Linked DNA regions of Homo sapiens: region 2 is linked to region 1. Evidence: fine-mapped expression QTL. A gene starts in region 1. The other region holds a variant in brackets. All regions are shown on one strand. Distances are from middle to middle.

The links. PIP is the estimated chance that this variant, and not a neighbour inherited with it, causes the effect.
Region 2: its variant is the best candidate, but not a certain one, in a credible set for the expression of DRICH1 in whole blood (TOPMed, PIP 0.60).

The regions. Positions count from the first base shown.
Region 1 is chr22:23,629,774-23,635,009 of GRCh38, reverse strand. DRICH1 (aspartate rich 1) reads left to right here and starts at 2,689. Exons shown (of 12, transcript NM_016449.4): 1 at 2,689-3,194. The coding sequence starts at 2,987. It overlaps LOC124905089 (a long non-coding RNA gene), which reads left to right. Exons shown (of 3, transcript XR_007068021.1): 3 at 2,100-2,134. RefSeq lists a silencer at 1,513-1,650.
Region 2 is chr22:23,680,707-23,685,942 of GRCh38, reverse strand. It overlaps the pseudogene GUSBP11. Among named protein-coding and RNA genes, the nearest start is that of RGL4, 7.7 kb to the left of the region's middle. RefSeq lists a silencer at 487-781. The variant G/A (reference allele first, on the strand shown) is at 2,914.

The sequences.
Region 1 (5,236 bases):
TTTCTACCAGAGAGCTCCATTTCAATGCGATACTTAAGAGTCCAAAACTATGTGGTGTTTTTTTTTTTTTTTTGAGACAGAGTCTCACGCTGTCACCCAGGCTAGAGTGCAGTGGCACAATCTCGGCTCACTGCAAACTCCGCCCCCCAGGTTTAAGCAATTCTCCTGCCTCAGTCTCCTGAGTAGCTGGGATTACAGGTGCCCATCATCGCACCCGGCTAATTTTTGTAATTTTAGTAGAAATGGGGTTTCACCATGTTGGCCAGGCTGATCTCGAACTCCTGACCTCATAATCCACCCAGCTCGGCCTTCCAAAGTGCTGGGATTACAGGCGTGAGTCATTGCACCCAGCCGAAAACTATCTTATTCCCCATACCTATTCCTCTTCCTACATTGTCTTTGTAGGAGACATTCACTGCTATTTACCCAGTCCTTCAAACTAGAGCCTTAGCAGCCTGTTTTTCCTTTTCCTTCCCCTGTTCTTCCACATCTAATCCTCTAGCACTTTCTGTTCTCTCTGCCAAATGATCACAGAACTTCTCTGTCCACTTCAGTCATTTCTACTTCCTTTGGCCTTATCTGTTCTTCCAGATGAACATAATGTCTCTCTCTCTTTTTTTTTGAGACAGAATCTCTCCCTGTTGCCCAGGCTGGAGTTCAGTGGTGTGATCTTGGCTCACTGCAACCTCCACCTCCTGGGTTCAAGCGATTCTCCTGCCTCAGCCCCTTGGGTAGATGGGACTACAGGTACCCGCCATCATGCCAGGCTAATTTTTGTATTTTTAGTAGACATGGGGTTTCACCATGTTGGCCAGGCTGGTCTCGAACTCCTGACCTCAAATGATCCACTCACCTTGGCCTCCCAACATCATGTCTCTTAATTGGTCCCACTGGTTCCATGAGTCCTTCTCTATTGTGCAGAGAGACCTCACTGCAAACACATCTGATAGAGACTCCTCACCTCTGTGTGGTTCCGTGACTCTCATGTTTCCAGAATAAAACTTAAACTCTACTTCAACTCTACTGCTGGACAGTGAATGAGCCTTTGTATTCCAGGTTCATCCACTGTTTTGCAGTGTAGCCTCAGACAACTGAACTCTAAGCCTTTGTTTGCTCATCTGCCTGAACTCACTGAGCAGTTGTGGGACCTTGGGGAAGTTACTTGACTTTTCCCTCTAGATTTACGCTGTAAGATGTGTAAAATGGGACTATTTCTGAGGGTTAAATTAGTATGCCACAGTTGGAACACTGTCAGGCACATAATGCTTGCCAGATATTGACTATTTGTCTTTGTCCTATGAGGACAATGGTACCCCACTGTGGGGTTCTCAATTTTGTATAAGAAAATAATGTTTTATGATTTGTTAGTAAAAGAAATACCTGAGGCTGGGCATGGTGGTTCATGCCTGTAATCCCAGCACTTTGGGAGGACGAGGCGGGTGGATCACCTGAGATGAGTTCAAGACCAGCCTGACCAACATGGTGAAACCCTCGTCTCTACTAGAAATACAAAAATTAGCCAGATGCGGTGGCGTGTGCCTGTAGTCCAGGCTACTCAGGAGGCTGAGGCTGGAGAATCGCTTGAACCTGGGAGGTGGAGGTTACAGTGAGCCGAGATCGTGCCACTGCACTCCAGCCTGGTCGACAGAGCAATAGTCCATCTCAAAAAATAAATAAATAAGTAAATAAAAGAAATATCTGAATACCCCTGCCATGGAAAGAAGAAACAGAGCGAGAAAAGGGAGTTGGTAGGTCGTAGCATTACAGAACTGGGAAGGATGTGTTCAGTCCCTATTTTATAGACGAGGAGGGAAGTGTGATGTGTCCCAGGGTTTCACTGAGGATACACAGCCATAACTCTCTATTGAGAGTGGGACCAGGGCCCTGGGGGTAGCTATGGTCAAGTTGCAGACAAGAACTAACACTTGTAAGACAGGAGAGAAGCATTTAATTAGAAAAGCAGTAAAAAATTTGTGTATAACTACATTTGGTGAGCAAATGAAAGCTGTCAGACTCAGAAAAACAGAACTGCTGGTGGAACTGACTTTAGTAACTGGGGTTTTCTTTCTTTTGTTTCTTTTTTTTTTTTTTTTTTAAAGACAGTTGCACCTTTGTCACCCAGGCTGGAGTGCAATGGTGTGATCTTGGCTCACTGTGCAACCTCCGCCTCCTGGATTCAAGCGATTCTCCTGCCTCAGCCTCCTGAGTAGCTAGGATTGCAGGTGCCCGCCACCAGGCCGAGCTAATATTTTGTATTTTTAGTAGAGACAAGTTTTCACCATGTTGGCCAGGCTGGTCTTGAACTCCTGACCTCAAGTGATCCACCCCCCCCGCTCAGCCTCCCAAAGTGCTAGGATTACAGGCGTGAGCCACCACTCCCGGCCATACCAGGGTTTTCTATTGAGTTTCTTGCCAAGGGTGACTCGCAATAACAACTCCCCCTGCACTTAGCTCAGGACTGGAAAGCTCAGGCAGCATAGGGTGAATAAAAGCCTGAGTAGTGCAGTCCCCACAGAGGGGCAGGGGGGCCACAAGGTGGGCAGCAGCAGGGACAGGCATTATGAGGCATTGGGGGGGGCTGTGGGGCTGGACATTGTGAGTCACTAGCCTGACCTGGCTGTTTCCTGGTAACCAGGTGACATAGGAAGCTTTGTGGGTTATAAGCATCAGCCAGGGCCAGCAGCCCTCAGTCAGTAGCTCGCAGTGGAGGGAGGAGGAGCTCCAACTGTGCTCTTTGATGGCAGTTTTTGCACCTTTGGGTGCTTGTCATGTTCGTTTATTTTTCAAAGAAGACAGCAGGTCCCTGACCTCATAGACCAGCTAGTTTGGGAGGTGGCGGCAGAATAAGGGCTGAGGACCCAGATCTGCCTGGGGTCAGGCTGCTTCTAAAAGTGCAGGGCCACCCTCAGTAGTGTGGCTGCTAGGGCAGCACAGTTACAATTTCGCTGAAGGCTGAGGCAGGAGTGGAGAGGCATGGAGAGGCCCCATGGGGAATATACTGACCTGTTGTATCAACTCCCACTGTGGCTGGCCCAGGGGGAAGGACGCACCCTGTTATGAATCTGATACTGATATTTATGAGACTGTGGCTGCTGCAACATCAGAATCCACTACTGTAGAGCCTGGCAAGCTGGATGTGGGAGCCACGGAGGGCCAAGACCTGCAGCACATCAGCAACCAAAAGATGCCCACAGGTAAAAAAGCCACGGGTGCCGTTTACCCTCTGGCACACCTCTGGCCACCCCCACCCCCTTCCCTTACCCTCATCCCCAGAGACATCCTCAGCTTCCAGCTCCCTCCTGTCCATAGCCAGCTTTCCCAGGTCTGGGCATGGGGGACAAAGGCTGACTCTGCCTCCTGTCTTTGTCGTTGAGACTTTTTGATCTAGAAAAGGGAGAGCCCTTTTCTCAATGAAAATTCAAATACCCCAATTTTGGAGTCCCCATCCCATTCTCTAGCCTCACCTATCTGGCCGGTTTGGTACCTAAATGAAGGAACCAGCTAAGGGTCAGATTGTTTTTCTTCCATCTCTTAAGGTAGCTTATTTTTTGTAAATTTTATTTATTATTTATTTATTTATTTATTTATTTATTTTAGATGGAGTCTTGCTCTGTTGCCCAGGCTGGAGTGCAGTGGCGGGATCTCAGCTCACTGCAACCTCTGCCTCCTGGGTTCAAGCGATTCTCTAGCATCAGCCTCCTGAGTAGGGACTACAGGTGCCCACTACCACGCCCGGCTAATTTTTTGTATTTTTAGTAGAGACGGGATTTCACTGTGTTAGCCAGAATGGTCTCGATCTCCTGACCTGGTGATCTGCCCGCCTCGGCCTCCCAAAGTGCTGTGATTACAGGCATGAGGCATCGCGCCCGGCTCCTAATTTAATTTTTTTTAAGTTCCGAGGTACATGTGCAGGATGTACAGGTTTGTTACGTAGGTAAAAGTGTGCCATGGTGGTTTGCTGCACCTGTCAACCCATCACCTAGGTATGAAGCCCTGCATGCATTAACTGTTTATCCATATTCTCTCCCTTCCCCTGCCCCCTGACAGGCCCCAGTGTGTATCATTCCCTGTCTAACACCGTACGTATTCTAAGACCACTCCTTTGCTGATGACAAATCTAAGTGATGGTTCGCAGGGGACTCTCTTCCCTGCTTCTGTCTGGAGAGCCTGCCTGGCTTCAGGTTCCTGATAGGAGTGAGGACCTGGAGTGCAGTGTGAGAAACAGATGGCTCAGTGAAGAACTGTCATCATCCACTAGAGTCCCTGGAAACAGCCGTGTCATTTAGATGATGTGGGTTTGTGTGCATGAGGGTTGGGAGATAGCCAGGGGTGAATTAATGTGTAGTGTTTGTAAATGTGTGTTTTCCCCCAAAAATGTGGACCCGCATGCCCAGCACAAGTGCAAGTGTCAGTTTTCTTGAATTCCTGGCCTATGGTGGTCCTCTCACCTCAGCCTCCCAAGTCATGTCATTCTTCTAATAAAAAGGAAGAAAAACTTCAGCACCACCATACACTTTACATAAATGACCTCTTTTTCACTCAACACAGTGTACCTGAAGGTCAGTTTAATATCCCTACTTCTTAGAGAGAGAGAGAGTGTGGAAAGGAATGAACCCAGATTTTGACCTCCTGAATGGAAGAGGCAAAAGTGAACCCAGAAATGGGTCCCGATGTTGATGGTCTGCATTACTCAACCGTGTCATCACTCCACCGTGATATATGACCCCACACCAGGGAGTTCCAGCACCTATGCGTGCCCCTGGTAGTGGTAGTGGATGGCCTATAAGTGTGCCAAACATTGCCCACCATCAGATGGGGCCCCAGTGGTCACATAACTCTGGGTAGCAAAAGGTACACGGAACAATAGACGTTGGCATGGGCATTACTGTGAAATACACATAGAAAGCTCACAGGCTTCTGGTCAGCTCACAGATTCTGAGAAGTGTAAGGGATCACATGGAACAGTGCAGGTCAACATCTGTCAGTGCTGGGGTCATTCCTCAGCACTTGGTCAAAGCAGGGAAGGATCAGGAAGATATTGCATTGTATTTAGTAACATGAGTACCTCAAGCCTTAGAAATGCTCCAATCCATGGCCGGGCACGGTGGCTCACACCTGTAATCCCAGCACTTTGGGATGCCAAGACAGCAGATCACCTGAGGTCAGGAGCTTGAGACCAGCCTGGCCAACATGGTAAAAACCTGTCTCTAATAAAAATACAAAAATTAGCTGGCCA
Region 2 (5,236 bases), 51 kb before region 1:
TCCTCCCTTCTCTGCCTCTCAAGTAGCTGGGACTATGGGCATGCACCACCATGCCATGCTAATTTTTGTGTTTTTTGTAGAGGTGGGGTCTCACTGTTCCACCCAGGCTGGTCTTAAAAGTCCTAGCCTCAAGCTGTCCTCCTGCCTCAGCCTCCCACAATGCTGAGTTGACAGATGTGAGCCACCATGTCTGGCCTGTTCCTTTGAAGAGCTCCCTTAGTGTTTCTAATGGGCATCCAAGCAAAGAAGATTTTGCTGGCAGAAGGCTCGTGGAACCCTACTGAGGCCGCATCTTCTTCACAGCCAGCAGATCATTCCCTGAAGTATCTGCTTAGCAGTGCACAGGCTATTTATATCCTGGGCTTTGGGTAGCTGTTGGGTTTGGGGACTGGCTGGCGCATGAGTATTGGCTCTGGGATCTGTCACAGCCTGGTCTTGTGGGACACCCAGTCTAGGATCCTCCTTCCCAGACCACCATTGTTCCTCTCACTGCCCCTATGGCAGGAGACCAAAGCCATGACCCCATGGTCAAAGGCATCCATGTGCAGGACTGAAGTTGAGTGACTCATGTGGGGAGGGGCGGGGCACAGCTGCTTGCTGGAAGGGTGTTGGGAAGTATTGGTCCATCAGCTGTCATGTCCACCTTTTCCTGCTGAATCCCAGCGATCCTCAGTGGTCTGAGAAGGGTGTGACACCTGGGTTCTTGGCTGGCTGAGCTGGTGCTTTTGCAGCCTCTTTGGGGCTCTTGTATGTGAGGTCTCACCTGAGTTGCTTCAGGAAACCTTTGACCCTCAGGCTACCTCCTGCTTAAGAGCAGAGCCTTTGTGTGGAGATCTGGCTGGCCTCTCTAGCATCCAGCCTGTCCTGTCCTGTTATGTCTCGGTTTGAGGTTGTGCTGAGGGGTCTCTTCCCATAGAGGAGGCAAGGCCAGTCGTGTGGGTCAGAGTGAAGCATGGCGATCCCAGCTGGCTGTGCCCGGCCTTTGACTGGAGGAGTCTGAGAATGACCAAGTCTGGGGAGCTGCCCTTCCTGGGAAACAGCATGTCTCCTCCCCTATTGTGGAGTTTCTGGATGTGATCCAGAGTGTGCTGGGCCTCTGTAGCATGTGCTGGGTGTAGCTGTGTGATTCAGGGTGGGAGGTGCAGGGGATCATCTGCTCTGAGCCAGATAAGGCCTGGACAGGACTGGCGGGCAGCCCTCGAAGCCAGGTTTGATGGGAGAGTAGGCACGGGTAGGGAGGGGACAGGGTCACCGGGGCTGTGTGTCACCTGTTCTTGCTGCTTTGTCTGCCCTGGGAGTGAGAACAGAGGTGGGCTGCTGTGGACCCACTTTGGCTTCCTGCAAGCAGGTGTTCATGTGGGGAGCAAGGCGGTTGGGTGGGGGACAAAGCTGGTCTCTGAGGTGTTGAGTGGTTCTTTGTCTGTCATTGTCCTTTTTCTCTCTGCCTTCCCCAACAGCTCTGCTGTAGCAGCCCATTGACCAAGTAGGTCACTCAGAGCATCCTGGTCCTACACATAAGCGTTAAGGCCCCTGAAGGGCCAGAGAAGGCTTAGGAGTTTCTCAAGAGTGAGCCCAGGGTGGGAGGGGGCCAGAGTCACTGAGAACAGCCCATTTGAAAAGTCAGGCAGAGGGATCCTGAGCCCTGAATATGCCTGCCTGGCCTGCGGTAACCATGCCAGCAGGGTCAGGGCATTTGGCCAATTGCTGTCTTGGTCGAGGCAGGAACATCTTGCTTCCCCAGCCCCTGTCTTTTTGTCTCCAGTATCCTTGGAGCAGCTGCAGGGTGGGTAGTGGGGTGTCTCTCCCAGCTGCTTGAAGAGATGAGCCTCCACCCGGCTGCCTCTGCCAGGGGAAACGAGTAATGACTGCAGCAGGGAGAAAAGCGAGCCCAGCCCCTTTTAGAATCAACCCTGCTGCTCCGATTCTAATTTTCAGTTCAGATTTTGCAGGCACGAGTGTGGGTCCCTGAGTACCTGCCCTTTGAATTCTTTTGGTGAGGACTGAGCATTCCCCCAGGAGCTTCTCATCGAACCCCAAAAACACGGCCCCCAATTCACCACCTCATCCCTTCCCAGGACCTGCTGAAGCTCACACCCGTGGACCACCCAGACTGCCTGCCGCTACAGGATGCCCTCCGCATCTCCCAGGACTTCTTTCCGGCATCAGTGTGGACATTGACCCCACTGGACTGCAGTCACAGTGGACTCCCAAGGGGCAGGTGAGCTCATGGCACAGCAAGGCCTCACGCTCAGGTTGAGGAGCCCAGAGTGGACCAGATCCCCAGTCCCTTCTCTGATGGCACAGGCATCTCTCTGTGCCCCTTGTCTCTGCAACCCTGATTCCCCATTCCCAGCCAAGGAGAGGTCTTCGATCCCTGGTCATGCTGATTTGATTCCCTGTGGCATTGTGGGCCCTAGGCTGAGAGCTTTAAGCCCAGTCTCTCAATAATCCTAAGAATCCAGTGAGCCAGAAGAGGGCACAGGACCAGAGAGTCTCTCCAGGTACGCCACACAGTCTTTGAGCTGTGTCAGAGCTGGATTGTTTACCTGGGGCTGGCTGTTTGGAGGCCCCAGGCATTGTCCCCCACACCAGGGAAGTTGGCCTGTGGGTAACTCGTTCTTGAATGCAGACACCTGCCTATGCCATCAGGGTGACCCAGGAGGGTGAGGGAGCAGGACATCTCAGCCACTTTAGATTGACTTGCATGAGCAAGAGCCAGGAAGGGAGCCCCACAGAGGGAAAGGCTGGTATTAGAGGTGGCCAAGGCCATCCAGGTTGCTGGAACATTCCACATGGGCTCCTGGATGTCAAACAGCAGTTTCCCTGGGGGCCCTTCTTGGTGGAAGGGTGGGGGTTAGTCCAGTGAGGAGAAACAACACTCAGCATGAGAGGCACAATTAACCCCTGTGGGTC[G/A]GCAGCCTGGCCCAGATCAAAGGCTTCCTGACCGATAGAGGTTGTTATGTGGCCCTGAGGAGTGAAGACTGCCTGGGTTCATGCTGCTTTGTTACATTTGTGAGTGAGGGGCAGGTCTGGAGAGTGTCTGATGGCGCATAAGGAGCTGTTTCTGTGCAGTTGTTGGTTCTGGTTTGCAAAACCATGGGATATCACTAGTTTGGTTTACTCTGGGGATATCTGAAAAATCTCTGGAAGACTTAGAGTAGCATCAGTTGTAGGTCATCTTAACTGTACGGTTTCAATGCACGCACCTACATCTCGCAGTGTACACAGGTCACACGGTGTGTCATAGAGACAGGAAAGACTGGGACAGATGGTTGCAGCCCCATGGAAGCCCCCCTGACTCTGAGGGTGGCTGAGGGGAAACTCTGGAAATCCTCATGGAGTAGAAACCATCCAGAGCCCAGGTGAGAGGTGGCTGCAGGTCCCCCCAGGACACTTCTGCAGCCCCAACCGAAGGCAGCCCGGGGTCTCCCATCCCCTGGGTATATTTGTTAAAAATGTGTCCATCATATATGAATTTGGGTTTGGTATTTGGTTCCCTCGTTGTGTCTTGTTCTGTATTTTTGTGTTAATGTCAATACCGTATTGTTTGGACCACTATAGCTCTTCTATGTCATTTGTAATCAGGGAGCATAATACATCCATGTACTTTGTATTTCCCAGTGATGAGATTGCTAGATGACATAGTAATTGTATTTTTAGTTTGAGGAGGAACTGCCAACTATTGCTCATAGTGTGTACGCCCATTTACATTCCCACCAGTAGTGTCTAAGAGTTTCCCTCTCTGTAAATTTACACTTGTGATTGCGTTTTAAAAATTCTGTTTTTGCTTTTGGCAACATTCATTTTATGTGGATGGGGACGCTGTCTTAGTGTGATTTGATTTAAATTTTTGTGATGATTAGTGATGTGGGCAAGCTTTTTTTTTTTACCTGTTCATTTCCTGCCTTCTTTTCAGAAATGTCTATCAGTTCTTTGCCCAAGTTTTGTTGGATTAGTTGGTTTTGTGTATTTTCCTACCTTATGTTAGTTTCTGGTATATGTCAGATGAACACCTTCAGCTCCATGATTCCTTATACTTACCGCCTCACAGCATCCTGTGCTCATTCTGTCTCTTCCGCTCAATGACCACTGCCTGTGTCCCATTCTTCTCCCTCCCCAGGGCAGGGCCCAGACCTCCTGCCTCCCATGGAAGCCTGGCCCAATGCGGGGCCAGCCACATGGCACAGTGTCCAGGGCCTTTCTGAGTGGTGGACAGGCCAGTTGGCATGGAAAATGGTGTCTGGGGTTTCTGAGTTGACTGTTGAATGCAGACTCAACCCACTCACAACCAGTCACCACCACTGCCACCCAAGCAAGCCACCTGGGAGCCTGGAAATTGCTCTGCCCACCTCTTGCCATGGGCACAGACACATACCATAGGGAGGACTGCCAACAGACCCAGCCCACCTGCCCCTGGTCCCCAAGGATGACATTCAGGGGCCTGGGGATCACCCCAGCCCACCAACCACAACCTGTGTCCATGCAGGCTCCCACAGGGCCTAAGGACAGGCTGACCCCTCCCAGAGAACCCCCACCCCACAAGTACCCAAGTACTTCACCCAGGGACCTGGGTATAGACCTGCCCTGCCTTCCACTTCTGGCATGTGCTTGCACCAGCAGGGGGCCTAACAACAGGCCAGACCACCTGATGCCAGCATCAGGTCCCATGCCATCGTGGGACCTGGGGATCACCCTGCTCTACCCATGAGCACCATCAGGGGCCCCGGGGCAGGTTCATCCCACCTGGCATATGTATGCATGAACTAGAAATGTGTTTGCCTGCTGGGCATGGTGGCTCACGCCTGTGATCACAGCACTTTGGGAGGCCAAGGCGGGTGGATCACCTGAGGTCAGGAGTTTGAGACCAGCCTGGCCAACATGGTGAAACCCTGTCTCTACTAAAAATACAAAAATTAGCCAGGCGTGCTGGCATGTGCCTCTAGTCCCAGCTACTCTGGAGGCTGATGCAGGAGAATCGCTTGAACTCAGGAGGCGGAGGTTGCAGTGGGCCAAGATTGCGCCACTGCTCTTCAGCCTGGGGGATAATCCGATTGAGACTCCATCTCAACAGCAAAAAAAAAAGTGAGAAAGAAAAATGTGTTTGCCGCTGTGATACTTTCAACAACTCAGAGACATGGGGAAGCAGTTGATACGTCATAAAAAAAAGCCCGTGGCAGATCCAGCTGAGAGATGTGATGGCAGTTCTGCTGCTATGAAAGCAGTCTTTCTTTGACAT